Linked DNA regions of Homo sapiens. The gene in region 3 interacts genetically with the main gene of each other region. Each region holds a gene or a part of one and is shown on either strand. Other genes may lie near its edges. The genes, in order: SCAMP1, ANKRD18B, ETAA1, STK36, FMC1-LUC7L2, PEX26 and PLCE1.

What was found.
Region 1: changes in ETAA1 (region 3) and SCAMP1 are lethal when combined (synthetic lethality), as found in Homo sapiens cells (one large-scale study listed by BioGRID).
Region 2: changes in ETAA1 (region 3) and ANKRD18B are lethal when combined (synthetic lethality), as found in Homo sapiens cells (one large-scale study listed by BioGRID).
Region 4: changes in ETAA1 (region 3) and STK36 are lethal when combined (synthetic lethality), as found in Homo sapiens cells (one large-scale study listed by BioGRID).
Region 5: changes in ETAA1 (region 3) and FMC1-LUC7L2 are lethal when combined (synthetic lethality), as found in Homo sapiens cells (one large-scale study listed by BioGRID).
Region 6: changes in ETAA1 (region 3) and PEX26 are lethal when combined (synthetic lethality), as found in Homo sapiens cells (one large-scale study listed by BioGRID).
Region 7: changes in ETAA1 (region 3) and PLCE1 are lethal when combined (synthetic lethality), as found in Homo sapiens cells (one large-scale study listed by BioGRID).

The regions. Positions count from the first base shown.
Region 1 is NC_000005.10:78,418,963-78,423,556, forward strand, and holds part of SCAMP1 (secretory carrier-associated membrane protein 1), read left to right. Parts: intron 1-2,838; coding exon 2,839-2,998; intron 2,999-4,594. UniProt on the Homo sapiens protein: Functions in post-Golgi recycling pathways. Acts as a recycling carrier to the cell surface.
Region 2 is NC_000009.12:33,564,917-33,569,510, forward strand, and holds part of ANKRD18B (ankyrin repeat domain-containing protein 18B), read left to right. Parts: intron 1-1,302; coding exon 1,303-1,584; intron 1,585-2,186; coding exon 2,187-2,398; intron 2,399-3,754; coding exon 3,755-3,977; intron 3,978-4,594.
Region 3 is NC_000002.12:67,406,989-67,410,710, forward strand, and holds part of ETAA1 (ewing's tumor-associated antigen 1), read left to right. Parts: intron 1-2,922; coding exon 2,923-3,050; 3' UTR 3,051-3,722. UniProt on the Homo sapiens protein: Replication stress response protein that accumulates at DNA damage sites and promotes replication fork progression and integrity.
Region 4 is NC_000002.12:218,699,200-218,703,793, reverse strand, and holds the end of STK36 (serine/threonine-protein kinase 36), read right to left. Parts: coding exon 4,446-4,594; intron 1,929-4,445; coding exon 1,785-1,928; 3' UTR 1,079-1,784; downstream 1-1,078.
Region 5 is NC_000007.14:139,403,188-139,407,781, forward strand, and holds part of FMC1-LUC7L2 (FMC1-LUC7L2 readthrough protein), read left to right. Parts: intron 1-2,456; coding exon 2,457-2,600; intron 2,601-3,986; coding exon 3,987-4,163; intron 4,164-4,594. Other genes in the region: LUC7L2 (putative RNA-binding protein Luc7-like 2), read left to right, coding at 2,457-2,600, 3,987-4,163. UniProt on the Homo sapiens protein: Plays a role in the assembly/stability of the mitochondrial membrane ATP synthase (F(1)F(0) ATP synthase or Complex V).
Region 6 is NC_000022.11:18,080,466-18,085,059, reverse strand, and holds part of PEX26 (peroxisome assembly protein 26), read right to left. Parts: intron 1,624-4,594; coding exon 1,328-1,623; intron 1-1,327. UniProt on the Homo sapiens protein: Peroxisomal docking factor that anchors PEX1 and PEX6 to peroxisome membranes. PEX26 is therefore required for the formation of the PEX1-PEX6 AAA ATPase complex, a complex that mediates the extraction of the PEX5 receptor from peroxisomal membrane.
Region 7 is NC_000010.11:94,241,603-94,246,196, reverse strand, and holds part of PLCE1 (1-phosphatidylinositol 4,5-bisphosphate phosphodiesterase epsilon-1), read right to left. Parts: intron 252-4,594; coding exon 1-251. UniProt on the Homo sapiens protein: The production of the second messenger molecules diacylglycerol (DAG) and inositol 1,4,5-trisphosphate (IP3) is mediated by activated phosphatidylinositol-specific phospholipase C enzymes.

The DNA.
Region 1 (4,594 bases), on a different chromosome or scaffold from region 3:
CATTTTTATTTCAAGGATAGTATAGCAAACCAGTCTTCTTTTTCTATAGATAAAGCTTAATAATCATGATTTCAGAGTGAAACATATCCTATTTAGGTACTTCAGAATTGTACTATATGTGACAATGTAAGTCCTTGGCTGAGAAAAACTTGTATGTTGAGAACTGGCATTCTTTTGAGGAAAAGACAACTTCTCTGTCATGTGGGTAAAATTTTATAAGATTCTTTTTCCTTGAAAGATGTTATCTAGACATGATTTGCTTGGAAAAAATAGTGCATACTAATTTTATGCAGAGGAAGGCCATTTAAAAGAATTCTGTTAAATGTAGGCGTTTTAGCTATTTTTAAAAGGGCATAAAATTATTACATAAACTAAGTGTTCTTTTTATAGCTTTGAGTACAGTTTACTTTTTGTTTTCAATTGCGATACTTTTATTATTGAAAGTGCTTAATTAATACAGGACATTTTGTTGAACGGAACATTAGAATATACGTTTGGGGCTCTGATGCTTACATCACTTTGAGTATAATAACTCATGGAATACTGAAACAAAATGTCAAGCCGTTAACAGTTTTACTCTGTGTGCACAGACCTCCCACTTACTCTCTGTTTCATTTTTATTCCAAACAGTAGTCTCAGCCTCATTTTGATACCCTGTCAGAAGGGGAGGTAGCTATTGAGGGTTCTCACATGCACAACATCTGGGTTAATGGATAATTTGTAGGGTACATTCTTGATGGAGGAAATTTACTTGTTTTTACTTTATGATTAATGAGACTACCACCCTTCCCTTAATGGATGAGATAATTTTCCTTAAAATCTTTTAGGAGCATTCTTCATGTATGTCAAGTTGTTTTGGAATGTGAGAAGTGTTTCCTAATGGATAGTCTATTTTTAACTCTTCATTAGTATTTTTCGAGATATTCTTGATCTAATATCTTTTGCTGAATCCTCAGTGTCAGTAGTATATATTTTTAATATTAAATGTCTGATTCCATATATGTACATGCTAACCAACTCTTATTTAATCAATATAATATATGCATTTATATTTTATATATGTTTATTTTTTTAAATGGGCAGAAATTGTCCTAGCATTTTATTTTATTTTGAGACAGAGTCTTGCTTTGTTGCCTAGGCTGGAGTGCAATGGCACGATCTTGGTTCACTGCAACCTCCGCTTCCCGGGTTCAAGTGATTCTCGTGCCTCAGCCTCCTGAGTAGCTGGGACTACAGGCACATGCCATCACGCCTGGCTAATTTTTGTATTTTCATCTATACTTGGAATAATTTTCATGAACTTTAAAGTGTAATTATACATATATTTTATCTTTCTTTCAGTGGATTAGGAAATAACCTAATTTGAAAATTGAAATTTAAGTTAGAATGTTCTTAAGGTCTAAAACTTTTTAAGGCAGCTGGATGCTATTTAATGCTGCAGAGTAATAATTTTCTATTTCACAATCTTCAATTCTGTTTTTAAGATCTTAACACAACCACCCTTATTTTGAGGCCAAGGGTTTTGAGTAAATTTATTATGAGCAAGCATTCCTGAGAGTTAAAAATCCTAATGGGACTAGAGTAATGAGTGAGAGTGTCTCTTTTGTGATAGAATTGAATGGGATTTTAAAGTGGGAAAAGCTCCTGCATTTCTATGGCTGAAAAATTGAAGCTTACAGAGGTTGAGTGATTGGCTTAATATTAGATGACTACAACCTAAGTGACTTCATCTGGAGCTCTTTTTAAAAAAAAACAAAAAACAAAACTCTAGAGCTTGTTTACTTATCTGGTGGGTTAGGTAAGAGCAAATTTAGGCATCCCAGAATGTGTGTGTGTATCCTGTTTCATTAATTATTAACTTATTTGATTTGTAAAGAAATCTTAAAGTTTGAGATTTAAAAAACTAGATCCAATAGGTTTTCCCAGTTGTTAATTTTAATTCAAGTAATTTGTTGGCATATTTTTATTGATTTGATAATTTACATTAAACATCATTTTAGCTTATATAAGAATGTACTTACTATAATAAATTCAGCCTGTGAATAAATTTTTAAAAAATCCTTTGAAACAGTTATTAATTACAATGGGTCAAAGTAGTTCTTTAGGATCATGGTATAGTTAGATGTTACTCAGATTTTTTGTTTTTGGTCTGTCAGGGAAAGCAATTATTAACAGCATATGATGAATTTGTCAACATCTATTTGTGTTAACCAAAAGAAAAGCCTGCCACAGTAGCTAAAATGTATCATGTTGTGTGGGGGAGTGAGGAGGGGACTTAATAAATTTAATCCTCTACCAAAACGCAAGTTTTTTTCAGGATTTTACAAATGGACAGCTCTATGAAGTTGAATGAACAATCCTTATACATTGACTATATAGTCACTAGAAATTGCTACTGTATTAGTATTTTTAGTCCAGTGTTTAGTCTGCAGCCCCATTCTGTAAAGATATGGTTTTTCCTCCTAAGTCCTGGGTCTTTTCCTGGCAGACACTGCTTTTCTTCTTGGGCTTCAGATCAAGAGACATCACGTTTCCTTTTCGGGAAGAAGCCCTTAAGGTAGTGCGCCTCTGGTTTAGCTACATCATTGCCTGTGAGGAGGAGAGGGCCAACAGAATTTTTGCCAAACAGTACATGTATTAAGACTCGCTTTCCTGTGTATACTCTGTTTTCAAATCAAATATGTAAGATACAACAGTGTTTTGAAAAATATAAATGGAAACATGGAGTAGAATACATTTGCTCTTAGGAAGTATTTTTTTATTTACAATTTTTTGTTGGATGAATTCATAAATTGAATGTAAATCTTTCTTTTTCTATTTTGTTTTCTGATTCCACAGTCCATGCAGTAACACTGTTTCTAAATATCTTCGGATGCTTGGCTTGGTTTTGTGTTGATTCTGCAAGAGCGGTTGATTTTGGATTGAGTATCCTGTGGTTCTTGCTTTTTACTCCTTGTTCATTTGTCTGTTGGTACAGACCACTTTATGGAGCTTTCAGGTAAAATGTGTGTACTTTAAAATACACTCTTTAAAACCTGTGAAGTAAATAATTCGTAGTATACATTAAAGGGAAAATTGATGCATTTTCATTAAAAAATTCTTGTATTGTTGTGTAACATACCTTCAGGAAAGTTCAATATAGCATGCCTGTGTATTCATTGGATTTTGTAAGTCATAAAATTCCATTTTTTTCTCCCATTTGATAAAAGACCAAACATGAAAATTGATGGAAAAATAAGAACAGTCTTAGAAGTTAATATTTATAAAATATTCTCTTCCATATGTTATACTTCAAGGAAAATTTTGCTGTTTGCCCACCCCACCTCCCAAATCAAAATCCCAATTGGTGCTTATGGTTTTTTTTTTTTTAAATTAACCTAAGTAAGGTAAATATACATGCAATATTTAAAATGAGCCATTTGCACCTAGCAACTTGGATTATTTTCTTTATAAATCCATTTTAGGTTTTTTCAAAGGCAGCACCATTTTAAAAACGATTTATGCTACTAGGTTAAGTATAATGCTTTACATAGTATATTTTAATCAGTGGTTAGGGTTAACATTTCCTTAGCGCATGTTCTGTGGGATATTAATAGGTGCTGGGGGAGAAAAAAAGAGCTCATAAGCTTAGTAAATTTGGGAACAGCTGGATAATAAGGTTAAGCAAGTTTCTTCATTTCAGGATTTCTTACACTCTTTAAGTACCTAGTATGATTTGTGCCTTATGACTTGACCATGCAACCATTATTTTTCTGTGGAGTACTTTGTTGGACTATTGCTTTAAGAAGTATTGGGAAATACTGATTGAAATGATAGTCCTATATGGGTTCATATATTTAATAGTTTTTTTAAACTCATTTTTATTTGAGTAAATTCTTGTGAATAACCATTTCAACTCTCGTGAATAAGGGGTAACATTACTAGGATATATGCGTGTGTTGTTTAAAGGATATATTAGGGAAATTAGAGGCCCACATTTAAGTGTTCAGTATGTTTTGCCATTGCAACCTAAAATCTCTTTAGTTAACCAGAATGTGTAACACACGCGCGCGCGCACACACACACACACACACACACACACACACACACAGAGTTAGAAACCCAGATCTGTAAACAGATGAGGGAAAAACAGAAGAGAACAGGAGATGGGAGAACATTAGGGAATTTGGAGAGAAAATGTATCAGACAATGAAGAAGTAAATTATTACTTAGAAATGGCATAAAGAGAAGAAATGATGAGAGGAGGAGTGAAGGGAAGAAATGATGGGAGAAGGGAAAGGAGAAAAGAACCTTTGGATACATTGAAATATGGGAGATTGGTTGCCAAGGAACGGGGAGAGCTTCTCCTGTAGAGATGGGTTGGAGAGGAATGAAAGGAACATAGTTACTCCTTGCATGATCTGAGTTATTGCTGTTATTTTCTTCGTTATCTAAGCATGGCTCACAAGGCTTTTTCTGTTTTTTGTTAGTTTGTTTTGTTTTGTTTTTTTTGGACATCTAACCTCTGCCTAATGACCTCCATCACATTACCAATATGTTATCGATCTGTGATGATGCTGGCTGGTGGGAGTGAGGATATCTTTATGAAACTTTT
Region 2 (4,594 bases), on a different chromosome or scaffold from region 3:
TGTCAGGGTGTTTGAGTTCCTTGTGTATTTTGGATATTTGTCCTTTATTAGATGAATAGCTTGAAAATGTTTTCTTCCATTCTACAGGTTTTCTCTTCACTCAGTTGTAGTACCATTTGTCTATCATTTGTTTGTTGCCTATGCTTCTGATGTCTTACCTATACAAATCTTTGTGCAGACTAATGTCCTGAAGCATTTTCCCTATGTTTACTTACAATAGTTTGATAACTTTGGGCCTTACATTTCAATCTTCAATTGATTCTGAGTTTATTTTGCTATATGGTGTTAGATAGGAAGCTAGTATCATTCTTCATATGGATAGTTTACCAGTGCCATTCATTTGAAGAGGGTGTCCTTTCCCCAATGTATGTTCTTGGCACCTTATTCCAAAATAAGTTGGCTGTAAATATGTGGATTTGTTTCTGGGTGTTGTATTCTATGGCCTTTACCCCAAGAATCATTACTTCTTAAAATGCAATTCAAATTAGCATGAAACATTTGCGGTTTAGGGAAAGGCTTATGGCATCAGAATCCTTATTTACAGGATTCATTATTTTGTGTTTTTTGAGATATGGTCTTTGTCTATCATCCAGGCAGAAGTGCAGTGATGTGGTCATAATTCACTGCAGCCCTGAACTCTGGGTACAAGCCATCCTTTTGCCTCAGTCTCCCAACTAGCTGGGTCTACAGGCCTGAGCCACCATGCCTGGCTAATTTTTTAAATTTGTTTTTTTTTGTAGAGATGGGGGTCTCACTATGTTGCTCTGGCTGATCTCAAATTCCTGGCCTCCAGTGATCTTTCTGCCACAGCCTCCTAAAGTGCTGGGATTACAAGCATGGGCCACCATGCCTAGCGTAGAGTATTATATTATTTTCAAAGTCTTATTCTGGGAGCCATTTATTGACTTTGGCCTAAATAACTCAATATGATATCTCTGAAAGGTTTTTTGACAAATTTTGGGGAATGATGATGAGGGAAGAGGGTTAGACACTTTTTACTAAGAGATAACTTAGTGCCATTTAAGGAGGAACAAAAATGAATTATCAGAAAAATAAAAGTAAAAGCAAGTGAAAAAGTTCTGTGGCAAAGATGATGTCAGTAAAGCATATTTTTGTGACTCATGGTAGCTTTAACTTTGTTCTTAAAATTCTGAGTAATTTAAGGGTTCACATTTGAAGAATCTACTACATTATAGATAACATTTTATTGCAAGTGGATGCATTTCAAAATTTGCTATTGGTTTTGTATTAGATTATTCTCAGCCTACTTCATTATCAAGCTCTATTATTTTATTAATGCAGTTTGATGATCTTATGGCCGAGAAGGAAGCTGTATCTTCAAAATGTGTCAATTTGGCCAAAGACAATGAAGTTCTTCATCAGGAGTTATTATCTATGGGAAAAGTACAAGAGAAATGTGAAAAACTTGAGAAGGATAAAAAGATGTTGGAAGAAAAAGTATTAAATCTTAAGACACATATGGAAAAAGATATGGTAGAACTTGGTAAAGTACAAGAATATAAATCGGAGCTGGATGAAAGGGCAATGCAGGCAATAGAAAAATTAGAAGAAATCCATTTACAGGTTAGTTTTTAAAATCAGGTAAGTTTATCTGTAATGGGCTTTCATTTATTTCACTGCAAACTGTATTTTGGATGTGTATATATTGTGTTTCCTCTGCCTCTCTTACGGCAATTTCCTTTGTAGAGCTCTAGAAAAAAGTGACGTTTTTTCCTTTTAAATATTTAAATTTCCATTATTATTATAACAAAATCAATCTTTCAAAGTAATGATTCTCACTATACAGTAAAAGGGGGAATTTGATGATTAAGACCAGTTGGCATAAGAGAAAACTGTGATTTAGAAATTATATGATACTTTTGAATTGGTCTTAAGCTACGTTGTTCATTGTTCACTTTTTAAAATTATAAATGGATTCTATTACTTTTTATAGGACCAGATTACATTAATACTAACATAATTATGATTCCAAATTTTTATAAATCAGACAATTCTGAATTCAGTTATTAGTTTTGTTGATATTGCTGATAAATATTTTAAGCTTCAGCCTCTTTTTAACATATTCAAAATTGCTCTTTGAATCACTGATTCAAAATGAAAGGCAACAAACATATGGTAATTAACTTATAATTGTTTTAAAAGTGTATTCTTTTCATTTGTTTTAGAAACAAGCAGAATATGAAAAACAATTAGAGCAGTTAAACAAGGATAATACGGCTTCACTAAAAAAGAAGGAACTCACACTTAAAGATGTGGAATGTAAATTCTCCAAAATGAAAACAGCTTATGAAGATGTTACAACTGAATTAGAAGAGTATAAGGAAGCCTTTGCAGTAGCATTGAAAGCTAACAGTTCCATGTCAGAAAAAATAACGAAGTAAGTCAAAACATATACTCATAGAAAATGAATTAAACTCATTAATTTGTTTTGAAAGCATAATTTTTAGTGAGATGGCTTCAGGAGATCAGTAGGAAGTGAATGCTAATTTGGTAATGTAATTTTGGAAAATAATGTTAGTAAATAATCCCTCCTTTAAAATGTTCATCAAGGATAGTTTCTGTCTCTCTTCTCTTTTTTTGCTTTTGTGTGGCTTTTTTCCCTGAAAAGTCTCATGTAGTTAACCTGACCAGTTAGTTTTTTTCACTAAGTATTTTTGAAGCTTTATGATAAATAAAGTGATCTTGTTATAAAATTACTTGTCAGAATTTTCCTAAATGGGAATATTAATGAGTTTAATTTATTTTTTGGTAGATCACAACCTGAACCCAAAGTGTCAAGTGATACTGCTACTCTGGGCACATCCTGGCACTCAGGCAGGGACTGTTTTTGAGTGTGATCTTTAGGTGTTATCACTAGAGGGTACCTCAAGAAAAACTATTTGTGTAACATTTTCAAGGTGTTACATAAAGGCATCCTTGTGAAAGAGGGAATAATTATCACAGGAATGAAAAGAAGGGTAATCCACAAGGTGGTTCAAAAATAACACCTTGTTCAGCCTGAAGGGCTGTGTGGAAGGCAGAAAGAACAAGCCCCACCTCCAGTGCCTTGGTCACAGTGTTGAGGGCTAATTGCCTTCAGAGATGCTGTAGTTCTTTTTGATCACCAACCAACCAGTCTAGTTCTCCCCCAGGAGTTGTTGCTCTGAGTTATTCCTCAGTGCCAAATACTTAAGTGTTCTTAGAGAATGGGTGAAATGTACAAGGGTGAAACCTGAAACTGGTTTACTAAACACAAGTATTTCTAGATTATTTTTGTTCATTTTAGTTTCCTTAATCTACATTATTTAAGGAGTACAACATGATGTTTTCATATAATTATTTATAGTGAAGTAGTTCTTATAGTCAAGCAAATTAACATAATCATTTTCCCACATAGTTACCCTTTAAATACAAGTATATCTAAAGGAATCTTTAGAATCTTATAAGTAGAGCTATTTTAGAAGGCAGCTAGGTTACCTGTTGAGCTGTACATCACTGATAGCCATTTCTCTTCCCTGTCTACTTTGAACTGCTTGTTCAGTAGAAATCACCTTAGAAACACATATACTTATTTAGAATGATTTTAAAATTACCGTTACTTACAAGAGGTATGCTCTCACACATCTTCGTGTGAAAACACTGTTTAATGGGTAATTTGGTTTACTCTCAGGGCAACTGTTTAAAAAATGCAAGTCATTAAGAATCATTCAAGGTAAAATGAAATACTAAGCATTTGTCTTTGCTCTCTTTACAGATCGGATAAGAAAATAGCTGTGATCAGCACCAAGCTCTTTATGGAGAAAGAGCGGATGGAATATTTTCTCAGCACTCTTCCTATGAGGCCAGACCCAGAGTTACCTTGTGTTGAAAATCTTAATAGTATAGAACTCAACAGAAAATATATTCCCAAAATGGCCATAAGAATTCCTACTTCAAACCCACAGACTTCAAATAACTGCAAGAACTCCTTGACTGAGGTTAGTTATATGACCATTTCTCTTTTGGGTTTCATTTCTCTAATATAATTCTTGTTTATAATTTGGTGAAATACTGAGTTGTTCTGTTGACTTATGCATGTTAAGTAAAGATTATAATTAGCTGTGTTAACACAGAAAGGAAATGGAAACTTTACATTTTTTAATTCCCTGGAGCTCTCATTTTCAAGAGACACCCATTTGCTAACTTTATTCAATAAATGTGGTTAAACTGACACATTTAAAATTTCTCTAAAAGCTGCATTTGTTAGGTTTTAAAAAATGCATGTTATTGCCTAATAACTGATGGTATACTTTGAAATGCTTTGTCTTACTCTACGTGACTGTAGTTTGTCTGTGGTTCATATCACTTTTTTTTTTTTTTTTTTTTTGAGATGGAGTCTCACTCTGTTGCCTAGGCTAGAGTGCAGTGGCATGATCTCAGCTAATTGCAACCTCCGCCTCCTGGGTTCAAGTGATTCTCTTGCCTCAGCCTCCCAAGTAGCTGGGACTACAGGTGCCTGCCACCACACCTGGCTAATTTTTGTATTTTTAGTAGAGATAGGATTTCACCATATTGGCCAGGCAGGTCTCGAACTGACCTTGTTATCCACCCACAA
Region 3 (3,722 bases):
TCTGCATAAATTTCCGCATGCTTGTATAATTGTATCTGTTAATTCCTAAAAAATTGCTACAAGAGGAAGTTTTAAAATTTGATGGATACCACCAAATTTCTATCCGAAGCAGTTATACCAATTTATCTTATCAAAACTTACAGTAAATAATTCTCTACACCCAAGGGTGTCCAATCTTTTGGCTTCCCTGGGCCACATTGGAAGAATTATCTTGGATCACACATAAGATACACTGACACTAACAACAGCTGATGAACTAAAAAAAAAAAAAAAAAAAATCACAAAAGAATCTCATAATGTTGTAAAAAAGTTTATGAATTTGTGTTGGGCTGCATTCAAAGCCATCCTGGGCTGCGGGTAGCTTGCGGGCTGCGGGTTGGACAAGCTTGCTTTACATGATAGCCCAAACTAGATATTTTGAAATATTAAAAATTGTTCTCAATCTATAATAATTTTAAGTATTTAAATTTGTATTAAAGTGAGCATATTGTAACTAAATCAAGCATGTTCCTAGCATGACTTTATTTACAGATAGAGTTGACCCTTGAACAGTGTGGGGGTTAGAGGCGCTGATCTGATTTGCAGTCGAAAGTCTGTGTATAACTTTTGATCCCCTAAAAACTTAACTGCTAATAGCCTGCTGTTGACCAGAAACCTTTCCGATAACATAATTAATTAATACATATTTTGTATGCTCTTATATGTATTATATACTGTATTCTTACAATAAGCTGGAAAAGTGTTATTAAGAAAATAAGGAAGAGAAAATAATATTTACTATTCATTAAGTGAAAGTGGATCATCATAAAGGTCTTCATCCTCATGATCTTCATGTCTAGTAGGCCGAGAAGGAAGAAGAGTAGGAGTTGGTCTTGCTGTCTCAGGGGTGTCAGATGCAGAAAACAACCTACAAATGAGTGGACTTGCCAGTTCAAGCCCATGTTGTTCAAGGGTCAACTATAGTTATAATTCTATAAAAGACTAAACCTCCTGGAGTATTTGAGTTTTCCCAAAACTCCTATCTACCAATCTATCTGCATTTTTTATGGATAATCTGCGTTTTAGCTTACCTTATCAATATTTTCTTTAAACTTATTGATAGTACTGAATCTCTTAATTACTATTAACTTTGTTGATGTTTTCTATTGTTTCTACTTCCTTTTACTTTGGTATGTAGCAAGCTGCTCTCCAGGGAAGTATCTCTGAAACAAAACTCACTTAACTCCCACATTTATTTCAGGCAGGAGTTGGCAAACTATGATCTGTCCAAATCCAGCCTGCAGCTTGTTTATGTATAGCCAGCACACTAAAAATGATTTTTACATTTTAAATGGTTGGAAAAAAATTAAAAGGAGAATAATATTTCATGACATTTGAAAATTATATGAAATCCAGATTTCATTGTCCATAAACAGGTTTTATTTGAATACAGCTCATCAGTTATTTATACATTATCCATAACTATTTTTGCTACAGTGGTACAGGTGAGCAGTTGCAACAAGATACTCAAAGGTTAACATTCTTGCTTTCTGACTCTTTCTTTACAGGAAAAAAAAAAATTACTGACCCTTGCACTGTAAGATCAAGATTAAGAAGAGCAGCTTTTGCTTAGTACTTTACAATATTTTAAGACTTCATTGTGTATTTTTATTATAGATTGAGTTAAAGGAAAGACTGATGGGAAAAATGGATGAGTCCCTAAATCAAATTTTCATGGTGTGACCTGATTATCATTTGAAATTATTTTCTATAATATTGCCAAGCAAATTGTAAGACCAACTTTAGGAAGTTATGTTTTCTGCTGTTACAGATTATTAACCTGTTTTCTTTCCACACAGTCAAATTCAGTGTAAAGTCTTTGGATGTGTAGTCTGAGTTTGTTGTGTTTCTCAGCTTTGAGACTAAAAGTATTAGATAATTAGTCAAGCTAATTAGAAAGTATCTTCTGGTGTCTCTCTTTAGGAAAAAATATCTACAGTCTGTTAGGTAAATAGCTTAGGAAATAAAAGCCATCAAAATCATCTGGGAAACTTATTTAAAATATGTATTTCTTAGCCTGAATACCCCCTCCCATTTCTGATTATACCAAGAAAGGAAAGGGAGGCAGATTATATATTTTGAAAATGCCTCTGTTAGTTAACAAGAGAAATGTCTCATAAATTGTGTATCTTTTTCTAAATGTCAGAATAAATGATATACTTAAATATGTATTAGGGTGATAGTCTTAAACTTAAAATATCATTTAAATGAGAAAGTGATTTCTAATACAAAGCCTCAACTTACTAAGTTAATTGAGATTATTTTAAAGTTTCTCCAAAATGCATCCTCCAAATAAAAATATAATTTCTGACAGTGAATCACAGGTAACCAGTTTGACATGACAGATTTCATTTTATCACTCTAAAATATATTTCCTCAGTGGATGAAATGAAAATTTTATAGCTCTATAGGGAAAAGTAGATGTGAATATTAATATAACATCTTATGTAAATATACACTGTTTGAGATTGATAACTAATTTAATTCCTTATATTTTGACTATTTTCCAATTAAAGTTTACATAACATTTTAAATCCCAATGTATCCTTTTTAAAGATATATTTATTCGTGGGTCATATAAATTAGATGTCATTGTCCACAAGAATTATTTGGTGGGTAGTCAGTTTTCTATCAAACTGAATTTTATCACACTGTGAAAAGAATGTATCAAATAGAGACAGATCCATCAGTGCTTGATTTTCTTTTGAACTGGAGCATTATATCTGTATTATGTACTTAGAATTTTATATTCAGTAGTTTAGTTTGATTTAATAGCCAACTAATATGGCAAATCTGGGTGATTAAAAAAAGCAAAAATTAAAGCACATATTGAATGACTTTATAGGCTATAAAAGTAAAACTCATCTTTTGTTGAATTTTTAGAGGAAGAAGAGAAAAATAGAAAGTGTTCTCCTGAAGAAATTCAGAGAAAAAGACAAGAAGCACTGGTTCGGAGAATGGCTAAAGCACGAGCCTCATCTGTAAATGCAGCTCCCACTTCATTTCTTTAATGAAATATTAGTTGGAAGACTTCACGAAGACTGCTGATAACTATCTGTGATTGATAGGAAATTTTTTTTCTTGATTTCTCTGTGAGAAATGTAATGCTGACTTTTATAAAGCCTGGACTTCTACTTTATTTAATAAATCAATGTTTGCAATGGTAAATGAAACATTTCCTTGGACATGTATTTGAAAGTCATTAAATACAAAAGTTTTGGAAATTCAGGAAAGTTAGCAATTATGTACGGATATTATACAGAGGAAAGTAGTTATATTTTTAAATGCTATTATTGCAGAGGATCATCAAAAAAGAGGTAATCTACGTTATTTCCTATTCTAATGTCTTTTCCTAATAAAAAACTTCAACTTTCTAAGTTAGTAGAGACTGTTTTTGTAGTTTTACTTTCATTAACTGTTGCTTAAGGTTTTTATACACTTCCAGATTTTAATTAATACTTTCATATTTCTAGGAACATGGTTGATATGAAATAAAGGACTTTTTATTTGTAAGGAAATTATGTTCAGTTCTTAGAAGTGGATTTGAATTTTAATAATTCTAAAATGTGACACATTTTGGAAACTTTCCACCATATTTAGGAAAACTTTGATTTTAGAAGTCTAACATAGAGGAAAAGAAGTAGTGGATTGTCTACAAAAGTAATGTGGCATCATTAACATTT
Region 4 (4,594 bases), about 150 Mb from region 3:
GTAGTTCATAAAATTCTCTGTTCAAAAGCCTGCAATAGATGCCTCCTTCATTCAAAGTAAGAGCCCAAGTCTTCACCAAGGTCTACAAAGCCTACAATATCTGGCCCCCACCATTACCTTCCTGTCTCATTTCCTACTATTCTCCACCTTCTTTACTCACTTAATCCATACTGGTTCCTCATAGCTCCTCAAGCATGCCAGGCATGCTTTCATCTCAGGGCCTTGGCTTTTCCCCAAAATAGGTGCACAACTCACTCCCTCGCCTCCTTCGAGTCTTTTCTCAAGTGTCACCTTCTAGTGAGGCCTACCCTGACCATCCGACTCAGCACTCCTCATCTCCTTTCCCTGGTTTCTTTTTCTCCATAGCTTTTACCACCTTCCTACATACTATTCTTTTAATAATTTCACTATCTCCCCGACCAGAATGGAAACTCTATGATGGGCACTGTTTTATCTCCTGTACCTAGAATAGTATCTGGCATACAGAAAGGACTCAAAAAATATACATTGAACTGAATTGAGATAATCTGGATAGAAGAAAATTATGGTGCTCCCTAGAAAAATATTATTTTTGCTAAAGTATAAACACTGTGGACAATGAAGATGAGGGTTAAACAAAATTTCTTATAAAAATAAGGGCACTTTACTTGTCTTTCATTTCTAAAACAACTGGAATTTAAGGAAGGACAGAAAGGAGTCTCCTCATTTTATGGATGGAGAAATCAAGGCCCTGGAAGCTTGTTCTAAGCCATCCAATGAGTTAAGGTTTTCCAATGCTTCCAGTTAGATTATAATTCTAACAGGTCTGACTAAAAGCCCTTTCTGGTAAATTGTACAATCTTTAAAATAGCTATCCTTCTACAGCAGCTTGGAGTCCCTACACATTAGAACTCCACTAAATATTAAAATTAGTCACTAAGTCTGAGCAACCTAATTGACCGCTCTGTTGAATCTTACCCTTTCCTATTTCAGCTCCACCGGCCTTGACTTGAAAGTAGGTAACCAAATATAGTTCATCTAGGAAGGGGGAAATTGGTAAAGGCAAGAAATGATATAAATAAGCTGCCAGACCAGGATCTTGTGTGAACACGATACCAGCACCTCCAACACCACATAGAAGCTGAAAGAGGGGTTGAGCCTCTCAACCCTTGTCCTGGGAGCTTCAAGTATGGTGAGGCACAACTTTTATTAAAAGAGTTTACAAACAGAACTATTAAACACACACACACATACACACACACATATACACACACACCCCAAAAAAAGATACACTCTCCACGCCCACCCACAGATAGGAATGTTGGCTAAGGGATAATCCCTCAATAACAGGGACTGATGGCATTGATCCCCACAGCCTAGAGCTGAGACAGGCTCTGTCTTCATCACTGTCCTGGGGCCAGCACGTCTAAGGCAAAAACCTGCTGGGAAGATTAAAGGAGCTCCAGAAAGGAAGAGATCTTTCAGGTTGAGGTTTTTCCCTAAGGTCCGTGAGGCAGGTCCCTAGAGTTAAAGGCACATTATTGGAGAAAAGGCCCCTGGATGTAGAGAAGAAAGGACTCTTCTCTGGCACCAACAGCAATAAAATTTACTGGTTGAAAACATCCTGCATCTGGGAGAAGGAAGAAGCTTTATATATAAATCTCTTCTAGTTTCTTGTTCTCAGTTGAGTTGGCAGCTTATCTCTTTTCTAGTCTCTTTAGCTCTCAGTTGAGTTGGCGGCTTGTGTAGTAGAATAAGAAAGAGCTGGCAACCAAAGTTGGAGGCTGGACCGCAGGAATCTGGAATCACATGCTATGGGCTGGCCTCAGGAGGTGAATGAGTTTCCTGCAGTGTTTGGCAGAGGCAGGCCTAGGACTGCTGTGTGGCAGTGACTGATTCCCCAGAGAGAGCAAGGATAGTTTCTCACTGGCACCCAGGGACACCAGTACCTGTAGGATAGAGAACAGATGATAGAACAGAACATGAGGCTCAGAAATGGTGGTGTCTGGGGCAGGTGCGGAGGACTCTCATTTACCCAGGAATTCCCACTCGAGAAGAGGAAGAAAAAGGAAATGGGCTCTTGGGGACTTGGAATAGACTGAATGGCAGAAGAGAAACCTTGGAGATAGGAATCATCAGGACCAGAAGTCTACTTCCATTCTCTTTGGTTATAGACCATGAAACCAAGGCACTAAGGGACACATATACTTGTCCCCAGGAAGACTTGATGAATGCAGCAGTAACTCACAGTAAGCCAAAAGGTCTAATTCCTAGCCTTCAATGCAGACCAGTGAGTTCTAACCTCATTACCACCAAGAATCCCATTAATTATTTTCCCCATGGATTGCACAAGATTCCTATAGGATCTTCACCATCGGCCAGGCAAGGTGGCTCATGCCTGTAATCCCGTACTTTGGGAGGCCAAGGCGGGCGGGTCACGAGGTCAGGACATCGAGACCATCCTGGCTATCACGGTGAAACCCCGTCTCTACTAAAAAAAAAAAAAATACAAAAAATTAGCTGGGTGTGGCGGCAGGTGCCTGTAGTCCCAGCTACTCGGGAGGCTGAGGCAGAATGGCGTGAACCCGGGAGGCAGAGCTTGCAGTGAGCCAAGATCGCGCCACTGCACTCCAGCCTGGGGGCGACAAAGTGAGACTCCGTCTCAAAAAAAAAAAAAAGATCTTCACCATCCTCTCAAATTTCTGCTCTGCATGAACTTCCCAATGCTACCACTTTGAGATGTCATAATTTATATTACCATATGTAGATATCTGTGATTTCCAATGGGCTTTTTTTTTTTTTTGAGACAGAGTCTCGCTATGTCACCCAGGCTGGAATGCAGAGGCATGATCTCCGCTCACTGCAACCTCCTCCTCCCAGGTTCAAGGGATTCTCTTGCCTTAGCCTCCCGAGAAGCTGGGATTACAGGCGCCTGCCACCACACCCAGCTAATTTTTGTATTTTTAGTAGAGACAGGGTTTCACTATGTTGGCCAGGCTGGTCTCAAACTCCTGACCTCAAGTGATCCGCCCACCTCAGTCTCCCAAAGTGCTGGGATTACAGGCAAGAGCCACAGAGCCTGGCCTACTGGACTCTTTATATACTGAAAATCGCGGTCAGGCAGGGTGGCTCACACCTGTATTCCCAACACTTTGGGAGGCTGAGGCGGGTGGATCACTTGAGGTCAGGAGTTCAAGACCAGCCTGGCCAACATGGTGAAACCTTGTCTCCACTAAAAATGCAAAATTAGCCAGGTAAGGTGGTGTGTGCCTGTAATCCCAGCTACTTGGGAGGCTGAGACAGGAGAATCACTTGAACCTGGGAGGCAGAGGTTGCAGTGAGCCAACATTGTGCCATTGTACTCCAGCCTGGGCAACAGAGCGAGACTCCATCTTAAAAATAAATAAGTAAATAAATAAATAAATAAATAATAAAAATACAAAGATTAGCCGGGCATGGTGACAGGCACCTATAGTCCCGGCTACTCAGGAGGCTGAGGCACAAGAATTGGCTGAACCTGGAGGCAGAGGTTACAGTGAGCTGAGATTGCGCCACTGTATTCTGGCCTGGGCAACGAGTGATATTCAGTCTCAAAAAAAAAAAGAGTGGCTCACGCCTATAATCCCAGCACTCTGGGAGGCCAAGGCAGGTGGATCACCTGAGGTTGGGAGTTCGAGACCAGCCTGACCAACATGGAGAAACCTGTCTCTACTAAAAATACAAAATTAGCCAGGCGTGGTGGCACATGCCTATAATGCAGCTACTCGGGAGGCTAAGGCAGGAGAACTGCTTGAACCCGGGAGGCAGAAGTTGTGGTGAGCCGAGATCATGCCATGCACTCCGGCCTGGGCAGTACGAGTGAAACTCTGTCTCAGAAAAAAAAAAAAGGAAAAAGAAAGTTGCGCAGAAGAGGAAGGATAAAGTAGTGGTTAAGAGTACGGGCTCTGGACTCAGACTTCTGAGTTCAAAAGCCCAATCCTACATACTGTCCTTGTAATTTGGACAAGTTATTAAATTATTTGTGCCTCAGTTTCCTCATCTGCAAAATTAGGATAATAATAGTTTAAACCAGATAATAAAGGTAAAATGCTTAGCATCGTGCTTTTCTCATGGTAAGTCTAAAAAAAAAATAGTCAGCACCTTCATGGCACACAGAGTAAAACTACTCTATCTCAGCATCTCTTAGTCTTCCCTCATCTCCCTCCTGCACAGCCTCTAGAAGAGATCAACTGTGGTCCTTGAGATCTCAGACATTTCCCAGCCCATTGGAGCCCTCTTCTAGCTCCCTTCCCTCCTCCAAGGCAGGAGATGTAACTAGAAAACTCACTCCAAGACACTGTCCCTGGGAGAAACACGGCATAAGTTTCTCCATGTCCCGATTCCAATTCCTTACAGATGATCTCAGAGAAATGTTGTCAACTATAGGGGCCCTGATCATCATGGTTCATAAGTGCTGTAGGGTATACCTGATGGATGCCAGGCTCCTGTTGCAGGCTCCGGAGGGCAATGAGGGCAGCCTCCTTCACATTTGGCTGGGGGTCTCCACATGCCATTTCTAGGAGCCGCTGGGGTACTTCGCACTGTAACAGCTCCTCTCCCAAACCTTCAGGTCCCA
Region 5 (4,594 bases), on a different chromosome or scaffold from region 3:
TTCACCTGTAAGTTATAACCACAGTAATACATACATAAAGTTAACAGTAATTTTTTAATGTTATCCAGTGTATGTTTATTTTTCTTATAGAGTCGATTTATTAGAATCCAAACAAGGTCTTTTATATTGCATTTGTTGATGACTTATTACAACATAATTATATTCCATTCAGTATGATCAAGTGTGTTTTATGAAAATGCAGAATGGGAGAAAAAGAGTTACCCAGGTGGAGTTTAGATGACAGTATTAAAATATGGTGTTCAGATATGTATATACAAATGAAAATAGATTCCATCGTTTGAGAAAAGGGTTGCTTTTAGTCAACCTTTTCTGAAAATTCTCTGAAGATGGGGACTGGAAAGACGGGCATCCTGAAGTACAAAGGATCTAGTATCTCATGGTTGGAAGAGATCTGTAAGTGCTTGGTAGAGCCTGAGTTGTATTGGTTGTATTGGTTATCCATCACTACACAAATGCTGTATAACAAACCACCTCAAAGCTCAGTGACTTAAAACACTATTTATTTAGCCCATGACTCTGCAGTCAGTGATTTAGGCTGAACTTGACTGAGCAGTTATTCTTGTTTCAGCTGGGCTTACTCACATGCCTTGCAGTCCACTAGAGGATGCAGAGCCATGCCCAGCAGGCTAGCCTGGCCGTGTTCTCATAGTGGTGGTAGAGGTGCAGAAGCATCAAGCCCCATCACACAGGCCTCTCCTTTGGTCATGTTTGCTACCATCTCAGTAACCAAAGCAAGTTCATGGCCAAATTCAGAGTCAGAGTACGATGGTACACAATTACATGGTCAAGGACATGGATACAGGGAAGAAAGAAGAGTTTTGGACAACAGTTTAGTCATTCAATGATACATTTAAAGGAAAATACCATTTGGTAGAGAGGGAGGATAGTGATAATAGAATTGGACTCTCATTGAGGGAAGAAATATTTTGGGTTGAAGGATATTTGAGAAGTAAAGACTATTAATTAAACCAGTAAACTGGTTTGTTGGGACTGGAAACTCATACCAAACTAAAACCTTCGGCCGGGCGTGGTGGCTCACACCTGTAATCCCAGCACTTTGTGAGGCCAAGGTGGGTGGACCACTTAAGGTCAGGAGTTTGAGACCAGCCTGGCCACCATGGTGAAACCCTGTTTCTACAAAAACTGCAAAATTAGCCAGGCATGGTGGTGCACGCCTGTAATCTCAGCTACGTGGGAGGCTGAGACAGGAGAATTGCTTGAACCCAGGAGGCAGAGGTTGTAGTGAACTGAAATCATGGCACTGCACTCCAGCCTGGGCGACAGAGCAAGACTCCATCTCAAAAACAACAATAACAACAAAAAATTAAAACCTTCTTTGCTAACATATTATAATTGGCCATACAGCAAAGACTTTGTGGCCCAAATAATGATTATATGTATGTTTTATGTGCCATTACAACAGTAGGAATGAACTAAGTTGCTAGGATGATGATGGTGATGAGGAAGAGGAACGTATTCTTTCCCAAGGCCAGAGTTAATCCTGGTGGAAAGCTAAGGACTCATAGAGTGGAGTTGCCAGGCGAGTATGCTGAAAATCAGCAAGGTGCTATGCAGGGTACATACGAGGCTTATTTTCTCATTTCTCACAACTTTGTGGGATAGGTACTTCTTAGATGAGGAAATGAATTCAGGTATAAGTAATGTGGCCAAAATTACACAGATAGTAATTGGTTTAGCAATAAGTCAGATCTGATGGATTCCTGAACTTGATCCACCAATTCATTTCTTTAACTCATATTTGAGCCTAGGCTATTTGCTGAGCACTAGAGATACAAAGATGGGAAATACAGATAGCTGTCCTTAAAGTAGTATGATATTTATGAAAGGAACTGTCAAAAAAGATACAAAGGTGACACAAAGGAGAGAGTATGGCCATCTTTGCTGATGTGTTTAAGTGGGGCTGGGATGTGGTGACTGTTCAGGAATGTTTTACAGAAATGGCCCTTGAGTTGTATCTTGTTGGAACGAGTGAATATTCAGTAGGCAGGCGAGAGGTAAGGGATCCCATCCCAGAAAGAAGAGTATATGCAAAGTAACAGAGGTAGAAAACAACAGGGTAAGTTTGGGGAAACTATAAATTATGTTGTGAGGTGGGGGAGTAGCAAGAGATGGTTTAGAAAAGTACAAAGGGCCAGATCATGGAAGAAATCGTATTTTACACTAGGAATACACCACCTCGCCAGAGGATAGAAAGTTATATTGGGCCCAGTAGTAGCCCTGACTTCATTGAGGTAAGGCAGGCAGGCTCAGAACATCCTGATGTCTCAGTAGTTCATTTGGGATACGCTCAGAAAGCATTCTTTAACCACATACTGCCTTAGATAACAAGTTTTTTCTCAGCAGTTCTGAAATACTTTGAAATTTAAAATTCATTCTCTTGTTTATTCATGATCTTCTTTTTTATTTCTTTTTAGGCAGAACGTGTTCATGAGTTAAATGAAGAAATTGGTAAATTGTTAGCCAAGGTGGAACAACTAGGAGCTGAAGGGAATGTGGAGGAATCCCAGAAAGTAATGGATGAAGTAGAGAAAGCACGGGCAAAGAAAAGAGAAGCAGAGGTAAATTCTTAATAGTAGTAGACGAATTCTGCTTAATTTGGTAAGACTACAAATAAAAAGTAGTAGATGAAACTTCAGTATCTATACTTCTCTAAGAACATGTATTTGAATGGAAATTATTGAACAGTTGTTAAAGAGAAGTTGAACTAAAAGACAAAAACAAAACAAAACTCGGAAAAAGCTGGTTGTGGTGGTGCGTGCCTTTGGTCCCAGCTATTTTGCAGGCTAAGGTGGATCGCTTGAGTCCAGTTCAAGTCCAGCCTTCTTCTTTTTGTTTTTTTGAGATGGAGTTTTGCTCTTCTTGCTCAGGCAGGAGTGCAATGGCATGATCTCAGCTCACCGCAACCTCTGCCTCCCGGGTTCAAGCGATTCTCCTGCCTCAGCCTCCCAAGTAGCTGGGATTACAGGCCCATGCCACCACACCTGGCTAATATTTATATTTTTAGTAGAGACAGGGTTTCTCCATGTTGGTCAGGCTGGTCTTGAACACCCAACCTCAGGTGATCCACCTGCCTCGGCCTCCCAAAGTGCTAGGATTACAGGCATGAACCACTGCACCAGGGCCTTTTTTTTTTTTTTTTTTAAGACAGAGTCTTACTCTCTCTCCAAGGCTGGAGTGTAGTGGTGCGATCTCAGCTCACTGAAACCTCTGCTTCCTGGGTTCAGGCGATTCTCTTGCCTCAGCCTGCTGAGTAGCTGGGACTACAGGTGTGCACCACCATGCCCGGCTAATTTTTTGTATTTTTAGTAGAGATAGGCTTTCACCATGTTGGCCAGGCTGGTCTTGAACTCCTGACCTGGGGTGATCTGTCCACCTCAGCCTCCCAAAGTGCTGGGATTACAGGCGTGAGCCACCCGGCCTGGCCTGTTTTTTTGTTGTTGTTGTTTTTTAAAATACTTTTGGTAAATTTGTCTTTCAGAAAATCTCTCTAAGTTGTATTTATTGATATAAAGTTGTTCATAGTGTTCTCTTTTAATATCTGTAGAATGTTTGCAATTCGTGTCTTTTCTTAATTAATCTAGCTGGTCAGTTTTATTTTGTTTTTCAAAGAACCAGTCTTCTGATTTTATTGTTTTTTTCTTGTTTTCTATTTCATTGATTTCTGTTCATGTTTATTATTTCCTTATACTCCAGTGGAGAGAGGCGCTAAGGATAGAGGATGGGGATAAAGGGAACCTATAATTTTCATAACAAAATAGCCATGCTTTTGTGGTTTTTTTTTTTTTTTTTTTTTGAGCTGGAGTCTCGCCCCAGTGAGCCACCGTGCCCAGCCACTTTTGTGTATTTTTTAGAAAACACTTTTGGTATAAGCATAGTATATTTTATTTAATTGTATGACTTTTAGTGAGATTTATATGGTCATTGTTTTTCTCACTTTTGTTTAGGAAGTTTATCGGAATTCTATGCCAGCTTCCAGTTTTCAGCAGCAGAAACTTCGAGTCTGTGAAGTCTGCTCTGCCTATTTAGGACTTCATGATAATGACAGACGACTGGCTGATCATTTTGGGGGTAAACTGCACCTGGGATTTATTGAAATAAGAGAGAAGCTTGAAGAATTAAAGGTACATTGGTAAAATATTCCTCACTTTATCCTCTTGTTCTTTTGATCTGTATCAGTTGCCTTTTTGTACAATATTCTTGACTATGATTCAGTAATATAGTATCTAATGATTAATACTAAACAGTGTAGGATTATAGATGGAAATTCAAGTTGGTTTAATGGATGCTGCCTGAGAAACAGACTTAATATTATCCTGTTATTTTGGGAGTTACCATTTTATATTAGATATGACACCGAGTTAGGGATCTTTCAAACTAGTTACTAAAAGAGTCCCATAAAACTTCATTGTTATTGTTCTTTTCAATAAGGTCAATAAGAATGTAATAATATAATATTTATAAGAAGTTTGAGAAAATGAACCCAATATTAATTTGAAATATTTTGCAATTCTTTATTAAATAGCAAGCTTGCAGAATCTCTAGTTTTATTTTA
Region 6 (4,594 bases), on a different chromosome or scaffold from region 3:
CTGACCCCGACCTCTGTGCTTGCTTCTAAGACCTGAGCAGGCCAGGCGCAGTGGCTCATGCCTGTAATCCCAGCACTTTGGGAGGCTGAGGCAGGTGGATCACAAGGTCAGGAGATCGAGACCATCCTGGCTAACATGGTGAAACCCCGTCTCTACTAAAAATACAAAAATTAGCCAGGCGTGGTGGTGTGCGCCTGTAGTCCCAGCTACTTGGGAGCCTGAGGCACGAGAATCACTTGAATCTGGGAGGTGGAGGCTGCAGTGAGCCAAGATCGTGCCATTGCACTCCAGCTTGGGCAACAAGAGCAAAACTCCGTCTCAAAAAAAAAAAAAAAAGAGTTTAGTAAAAGGGTATTAGGTATTGGCTAAAGCCTTCATTCCTTAACTGCACATACTCTTGCAAATCTCATGAATATAAATTGTTTTCCTCGTGTTTATTACTTATTTTGACTATATATTATTTACTATATTGAATGCATCTTTGTAAAAGTTTTTTAAAACCTTTCAGAACCTTTCAGGCCAGGCGCAGTGGCTCATGCCAGTAATCCCAGCACTTTGGGAGGCCAAGGCAGCCAGATCACGAGGTCAGGAGATTGAGACCATCCTGGCTAACACGGTGAAACCCCGTCTCTACTAAAAATACAAAAATTAGCCAGGTGTGGTGGCGGGCACCTGTAGTCCCAGCTACTCAGGAGGCTGAGGCAGGAGAATGGCGTGAACCTGAGAGGTGCAGCTTGCAGTGAGCGGAGATCGCATCACTGCATTCCCGCTTGGGCGACAGAGCGAGACTCCGTCTCAAACAAAAAAAAAAAAAAAAAAAAAGAGAGAGAGATGGTGACTTTCTGTCCTTGAAGTATTCACAACTAGACTAGATCATCACTCAAGGAAAAGGGCGGAAAAGATTCAGCGACCAGGGAAAGGGTCTGCAAATTAGTTTCTGATATTCCTTTGGCTATCCCAGCAGATCTCAGCTGTGTCTGTATTGGGGCCAGCATTTAAAGGAGGAAGGACATCCCACCCAGACCAGTATGGTGGAAGCAAGAGACCTCATCAGAGGACTCCAATGGGAAAATGACTTTCAAAAGACAAGTCAAGGTCCCAAGACCCAGCAACACCTTCCCATGTGGAGATTCTCCTTCCACTGCCAACTTCAGAGGGTCTGGCCTTCACTTTGTGAAGCAAATCAACAGGCCTCCTATTCTGTGACTCAAGAGTTATTCATACAAAGAACTGCTTCTAAGCTCGCAGGAGTTTCACGACAGACCCCGAGGTACAGTGCAAGCCCGCAAGTCCACTTTACAGAGGTCGCAGAGGGATAATGTCCTACCTTCCAGGTTTGGCTTCTGGGCCTCCTCAGAGCCTGAGTGTTCCTGTTTCTGCTGCTGCCTCGCTGTGTGAATGGCCTGAAGTACATCCAGTCGCCGCTCCTCACCAAAGGCTGCAGAGCCCACCACTAGCTCCTCAGCCTCCGATAAGCAGCCCAGAGGCAGCAGCACCCGCTGCACGTGAAATTCTGCCAAGGCTCCATATTCTGGAAGGTTTTGATTGGCTGGGTCTTGGAGCCAGGCACCCACCACATCCAGCACAGCTCCAGGCTCTTGCATTTTGCTGTATAAAAGAATGCTGCAGTCCCCAAAAAACCCAATCCCAACAAAAGAAGAGTCAGTGCTCAATGATTGGTTCATTTCCCATGACCACTATGCTTCTCCTATCCAGCCCCTCCTCACTGTGTCCTCGAGCCCTTTCCGATGAAATGATGATGCTCATGGGAATTCCCCACGACACACCCATCACTAACAGCATAATCAATGGGAAAAGCTGAAAGCCTTTCCTCTAAGATCAGGAGCAAGACAAAGATGCCTACTTTGACCGTTTTTATTCAACATAGTACTGGAGGTCATAGCCAGAGCAATCGGGCAACAGAAAGAAATAAAAGGTATCCAAATTGGAAAGGAGGAAGTCAAGTTATCCCTGTTTGCAGACAGAACTAATAAACGGATTCAGTAAAGTTGTGGGATACAAAAATCAATGTACAAAAAACAGCGTTTCTATACGTGACAGTGAACCATTGGAAAAGAGATCAAGAAAACAATTCGATTTACAATAGCTACCAAAAAAATAAGATACCTAGGAATAAATTAAACCAAGCTGGCAAAAGATCTCTACACTGAAAACTATAAAACATTGATGAAAGAAGTTGAAGGGGACACACAAAAAATGGAAAGATATCCCGTGTTCATTCACAAATTGGAAGAATATTATTAAAATACCCAAAGCAATTTACAGATTTAATGCAATCCCTATCAAAACACCAATGGCATTCTTCAGAAACAGAAAAAACAATCCTGAAATTCGTATGGAACCACAAAAGACCCCAAATGGCTAAAGCAGTTGTGAGCAAAAAGAACAAAGCTGGAGGTATCATATTACCTGACTTCAAACCATACTACACAAAGCTATAACAGTAACCATAACAGCATGTTATGGCATAAAAACAGACAAAATAGAACAGAACAGAGAGCCCAGAAATAAATTCATGCACCTACAGCCAACTGATTTTCAACAAAGGTGCCAAGAACACACACAGGGGAAAAGACAGTCTCTTTAATAAATGGTGCTGGGAAAATCGGATATCCATATGCAGGAGACCAGACCCCTACCTTTCCCCACATACAAAAATTAACTCAAAATGGATTCAAGACTTAAATGTAAAATCCAAAACCATGAAACTACTAGAAGAAAGCACAGGAGAAATGCCTCACAACACTGGGCTGAGCAAGTGTTTTTTTCAGTAAGACCTTAAAAGCACTGGTAACAAAAGCAAAAATGGACAAATGAAATGACATCAAACTAAAAACTTCTGCACAGCAAAGGAAGCAATTAAGAGTGAAGAAACAACCTACAGAATGGGAGAAAATATTTGCAAACTATCCATCTGACAAAGCGTTAATATCCAGAATATATCAGGAACTTAACAGCAGAAAAAAAAAAAAAAAACCTGATTCAAAAGGGAAAAAGACCTCAACAGACATTTCTCAGAAGACGACGTACCATGGCCAACAGGTATATGAAAAAATGCTCAACACTACTAATCATCAGGGAAATGCCAATCAAAACCACAATGAGACACTACCTCGCTCCAGTTAGAACAGCTCTTATCAAAAAGACAAAAGAAAACGAGTGTTGGTGCGGGTGAGGATGTGGAGAAAGGCAGCACTTACACACTGTTGGTGGGACTGTAAATTAGTACAGCCATTATGGAAAACAGAATGCAGGTTCCTTTAAAAAATTCAAAATAGGAAAGACGGCACTTCCTTTTTGTAAGTGGTGGCAAGTGCTGAGAGAATGCCATGAAGGCCTGGGGCACACTGAGAGAGTATTTGCTGCCTGCCCACCCCCAAATGCCACATGCTGCCCCTCTACTGCCAGCAAATCTCTGCACCTAAGCAAGTTGTGCCAAGTCCCGCTTCTGGTACTGCCACCGGCCGACAGTCAAGCAGTTCCACAATTCCAAGATCAAGTTCCTGCTGCCCTACCAGGTCCTGTGTCTTCAGCACAAGCCACACTCCAACATCAAGAGTCCCAACACCTTCTTCTAGGTACAGGGAACTGTCACCGGGTGTCATCAAAATAAACTTAAGAATGGCCAGGTGAAAAAAATAAAAATAGAACTACCACATGATCTAGCAATCCATTATCTCCCCTGTTTAATGCAGCACTATTCACAACAGCCAAGATATGGAATCAACCTAAGTGTCCAACAACAGATGAATGGATAATGTGTGTGTGTGTGTGTGTGTGTGTGTGTGTGTGTATATGTGTACATATATGTATATTATGTGTATATATGTGTTTATATATGTGTATATATATACACACACGCATATATATATATATATATATATATAATGGAATACTATATAGCCATAAAAAAGAATGAAATCTTGTCATTCATGACAACACAGGTGGACCTGGGGGACATCATGTTAAGTGAAATAAGCCAGGCACAGAAAGATAAATACTACATGATTTCACTCATGTGAATCTTTAAAAAAAAAAAAAAGTTGATATCATAGAAGCAGACGGTAGAACGGTGGTTACCAGAGACTGGGAAAGGAAGGAAGAAAAGGAAGACGGGAAGAGGTTCGTCAATGGGTACAAAGTTACGGTGGGATAGGAGGAATAAGTTGTGGTGTTCTATTGCACGGTAGGGTGGTTATGGTTAACAGTAAGGTATTGTATATATAAAATAGCCGGAAGAGAGGCTTTTGAATGTTCCTGTCACAAACAAATGATAAATGCATGAGGTGATGGATATGCTAACTACCCTGATTTGATCATTATACAACATATACACAGCATATATTGAAATGTCTAATTTACCCCATAAATATGTACAAGTGTCAATTTTAAAAACTTTGTTATTTTTTGGCCAGGGGCGATGGCTCACATCTGTAATCCCAGCACTTTGGGATGCCGAGGCAGGTGGATCACGAGGTCAGGAGATTGAGACCATCCTGGCTAACACGGTAAAACCCTGTCTCTACTTAAAACACAAAAAAATTAGCCGGGCGTGGTGGCAGGCGCCTGTAGT
Region 7 (4,594 bases), on a different chromosome or scaffold from region 3:
AGGTGCTATTGTCGGGCTGAAGCTGGAGGAAGCAGCGGGCAGAGAGGTGTGTGTCCTGGTCGTAGTGGATGACCGTGGCCCCCTGCAGCAGGAACTGGTGCACATCGGCTTGGATGGACAGCACGTACCAAGGGATGAGCTCCGTCCCATGGTCGAAGGCCTTCTGTGAGTCCTCTGAACCATGAGAGTCGTATTCTTTGGATTGCTCAAAGATGTCATTGTCTGAATCCAACAAATCTCCAATTATAAACCTTAAGGAAAGAAACACCAATTTGGTTTGTCTTATAATCAAGTGAGAACAACCCAAAGACATTTTCACTGACACTGGGCTTTATTTTTCATCGCACTATGAATTCAAATTAGCATAGGAAATACAAAATACTAAATAGCACACAGTAACTTCTAATAACCGAGGCCAGGTGTGGTGGCTTACGCCTGTAATCCCAGCACTTTGGGAGGCTGAGGGTGGACCACTTGAGTCCAGTAGATCAAGACCAGCCTGGCCAACATGGTGAAACCCCCTCTCTACTAAAAATACAAAAATCAGTCAGGCATGGTGGCATATGCCTGTAGTCCCAGCTACTTGAGAGGCTGAGGCAGGAGAATTGCTTGAACCCGGGAGGCGGAGCTTGCAGTGAGCTGCGATCGTGCCACTGCACTCCAGCCTAGGCGACAGAGCAAAAAAAAAATTTTGAGTAACTTTTTATAACCGTATTCTAATATTCTTTATAACTGTATTCTTATCTTTAGCAAGGTATCTGACCATAAGCATAAGAAAACAACTACTAGATGAGTTATTGTATTTTTATTCTCAACAACAATAATCTTTATTATGTATTAGTTTTCCTTCTTGTGTCAGGAACCGTGTTAAATACTTTATGTACATTTTTTGTACTAAATCCAATCTACTTGCAAGGTAAGTTTTATTATTCTTTTTCTACCTATGAGGAAACCGAGGTTCAGAAAGGGAAAGTAATTTGTTCAAGGTAACCCCTCTCAGAGGAGGCCAAGCCAAGGTGAGATTTTGGTCTAACTTTATACCTGGGATTTTCATTGTTAGGCTTGTTTGCCTTCAATTAAATCATAAACACAAGTCATGATCTGAATATACTGGGACTTTAGTCCTTTTTAGGTTTTTTTAACCTTTTTAGGTTAAAAAAGGACTTAATAGGCTGGCTTGAGAAGTACCTCTGTTAAACTGTTAAAAATAAAATACAATTAGTTCAAAGATACTCCTTGGAAAGAAAGTAGGCAGACTGCTTGAGCCCAGAAGTTTGAGACCAGGCTGGGCAACATGGTGAGATCCCATCTCTACAAAAAATACAAACATTAGCTGAGTATGGTGGCATGCCTATAGTCCCAGCTACTTAAGAGGCTGAGGTGGGAGGATTGCTGGAGCCTGGGAGGTAGAGTCTGCAGTGAGCTGTGATGGCATCGTTGAACTCCAGCCTGGGCAATAGAGCAAGACCCTGTCTCAAAAAATAAAAATAAATGACATTTAAAAAGGACACTCCTTGGGAAATATGGTCACGGTGGCCAGAAAAGCATAACAGTTCTCCTGGACTCAACCTTAGATTTCTACTCTCTCTGTGCATGTGTGTAGGTATACACAGAAAAGGCTAGTTTGCATAGAAAATTTAGCACGTTCCCTCCGCTGAGTCAGGAACCTGGATTATTTGAGCCAAGAGGATCAGAGAACAGTGAAGGCAAGCGATTGCTTCTTTCTTACATGGCCACCTTGGCAGGAACCTGCCCAAGAGTCTCATTCTTTTCAAAGCATAGGAAGTTGTTAGTAAGATCAAGGTTTCTGCTATTTGGTCCACAGACATCACCAGCAAAGTGGTGAGTAAAATTGTGAAGGAGCTGGTACATAGGCTGGTCCACGCGTCTCTGGGAAGGAAGGCTCTCATGCTCAGGAGACACTTGGGCCACCTACTGCCTCTTGATGAGGCAACGACAGTATCATGGGGCTTGTTGATACTCCTCAGTTTAGACTATGGTCCCTGAACAAGATTACCATTCTTGCTTTCAAACAGCAGGTTCTACATCCTTGCCCCACACGTGGATATTCTTTAAAAAAAAAGTCTACCACAAATATTGAATTTTAGTGTCTCACAAATCTGACGGTGAGAAAATCCATTTCAGAGCCCCATACCAGAAATAACCAAAAGTCCAGCAACAATAAAATGTATGCATAGATTTTGGTGTATTCATGCAATGTAATTCTGTACAGCAATGAAAATGAATAAGCAATAGCTAACTACATGGAATAACACAAATTTTAAGCAAGACACACAAGAATGCATATGGTATGTATTTGTGATACATAAATACATACATTTCTGTAAATGTCAATTTCAAAACCAGGCAAAAACTATACTGTACTATTTAGGAAGGCATATTAGTAGAAAAACTACAAAGAAAAACAAGATGTTATTGTAAAACTTATAATAGTAGTTTTCTCTAGGGGGAGGCTGGTAATAATTCAGAAGGGAAATAAGAAGTTTAGGGGTGCTGGCAATGTTCTAACCCTGGATGCTAGTTATGCTCAGTCACCTGATAATTATTCAAATACACTGTTTCGATAAACTTTTAATTTTAGGATAGTTTTAGATTTATAGAAAATTCCAAAGACAGTGTACCTCACACAAAAATTTCCCTATTAACATCTTACATTAGTCTGGTATATGTGTCATAATTCATGAACAAATCCTAACACATTATCACTAATTAAGGTCCACACTTTATTCAGATTTTCTTAGTTTTTAATGTCCCTTTTCTCTTCCAGGATCTCCCATTACATTTACTTGTCAGGTCTCTTTAGGCTCCTCTTGACTATGAGGGTCTCTCCTTGTTTTAGGTGCTCTTGACAGTTTGGAGGAGTACTGCTCAGGTGTTTTCTTGAAGGCCCCTCAGTTAGGACTTGGCTGATATTTTTTCCATAACTAGATGCAGGTTATGGGTTTGGGGAGGGAAGACCATAGAGGTAAAGTATCATTCTTATCACATCATATTGAGGGCACCTACTACCAACATGACTTCTCTCTGGTGATACTGATCACCTGGCTGAGGACCTGTGTGTCATGTGCCACTGTACAGTTACTACTATTATTATTTTTAACTCATTTCCATACTCTACTCTTTGGGAAAAAGTCACCATGCCCAACTCACTCTTAAGGAGTGGGGAGTTATGTTGCACTTCCTTGAGGGTGAAGAATCTGCCTAAGTTATTGGGAATTCTTTTGCACAAAAGATGGATCTCTTCTCCCCCATTTGTTTATTTATCATTTACACATATCATTTACTTGTATCAGTATGAGCTCATGAATATTAATTTAATACTTTGGGTGATTTATAATGTGATACTACTTTATTTATTTTGTTGCTGTGGCTATTGGGAGCTCTTCCAGTTGGTTCTTGTATTCCTTTCACAGCTCCCATCACTGTGTGTTTCTTTTGAGAACTTCCTTACTACAACATGCTCCAGGCTCACCTTGTGTATTTTCTGCCCCAGTCCTCGAATCAGCCTCTCTAGGAGAAACCTTGCCTCCCTTTACTGAAGAATGGTATTAGAAACCAAGATCTGGGCCATGCGCAGTGGCTCACATCTGTAATCCCAGCACTATGGGAGACCAAGACAGGTGAATCTCTTGAGGCCAGGAGTTCAAGACCAGCCTGGCGAACATGGTAAAACCCCGTCTCTACTAAAAATACAAAAATTAGCTGGGCGTGGTGGCAGGCACCTGTAGTCCCAGCTACCTGGGACGCTGAGTCACAAGAATTGCTTGAACTTGGGAGGCTGAGCTTGTAGTGAGCAGTGAGCTGGCATTGTGCCACTGCATTCCAGCCTGGGCAACAGAACAAGACTCTGTCTCAAAAAAATAAAAATAAAAAATAAAACAACAAAAACAAAAAAAACACAAGATCTGGGGTTACATGATATTTTATGCTCTTTTCCTAATGTTACTTCATAATAAAAAGTGAAATAAGAAAAAAATCATTTGTGTCTTATTTAGCTCCATCCCTCTGAAATTGCTCTCGGTAACACTGGAAAACCAATACTTATGTCCTCTTACACAATGGCTTCATACATGCCTGCTGCAGTCATCCTGGGTTTAATGTTAAACATCACCACCTGTTTCCTGTGTGACCTCATCAAAACACTCAACCTCTCTGAGCCTCACTATTAGATGGCAAAAAGACAATGCTCATCTCATAGAATAATGGTGAAGATCAAATAAGATAACAGTTGGAAAGCACTTAGCACAGCGCCTGTCTTGGTAAAGTACACTCATTAAATATAGGAAGACCAATTCTTTGCACTTTTCCTTTCTCACTTCCTCTTCTCTAGGCTACCTCAGCCCAGCCCAGCTGTTCCTCTAGAGGGGCTTTTTTTTTTTTTTTTTTCTGGAGATGGAGTCTTGCTCTGTTGCCCAGGCTGGAGTGCAGTGGCACAATCTCAGCTCACTGCAACCTCCGCCTCCCAGGTTCAGGCAATTCTGCCTCAGCCTCCTGAGTAGTTGGGATTACAGGTGCCCGCCACCACACCCGGCTAATTTTTGTATTTTTAGTAGAGACAGGGTTTCACCATCTT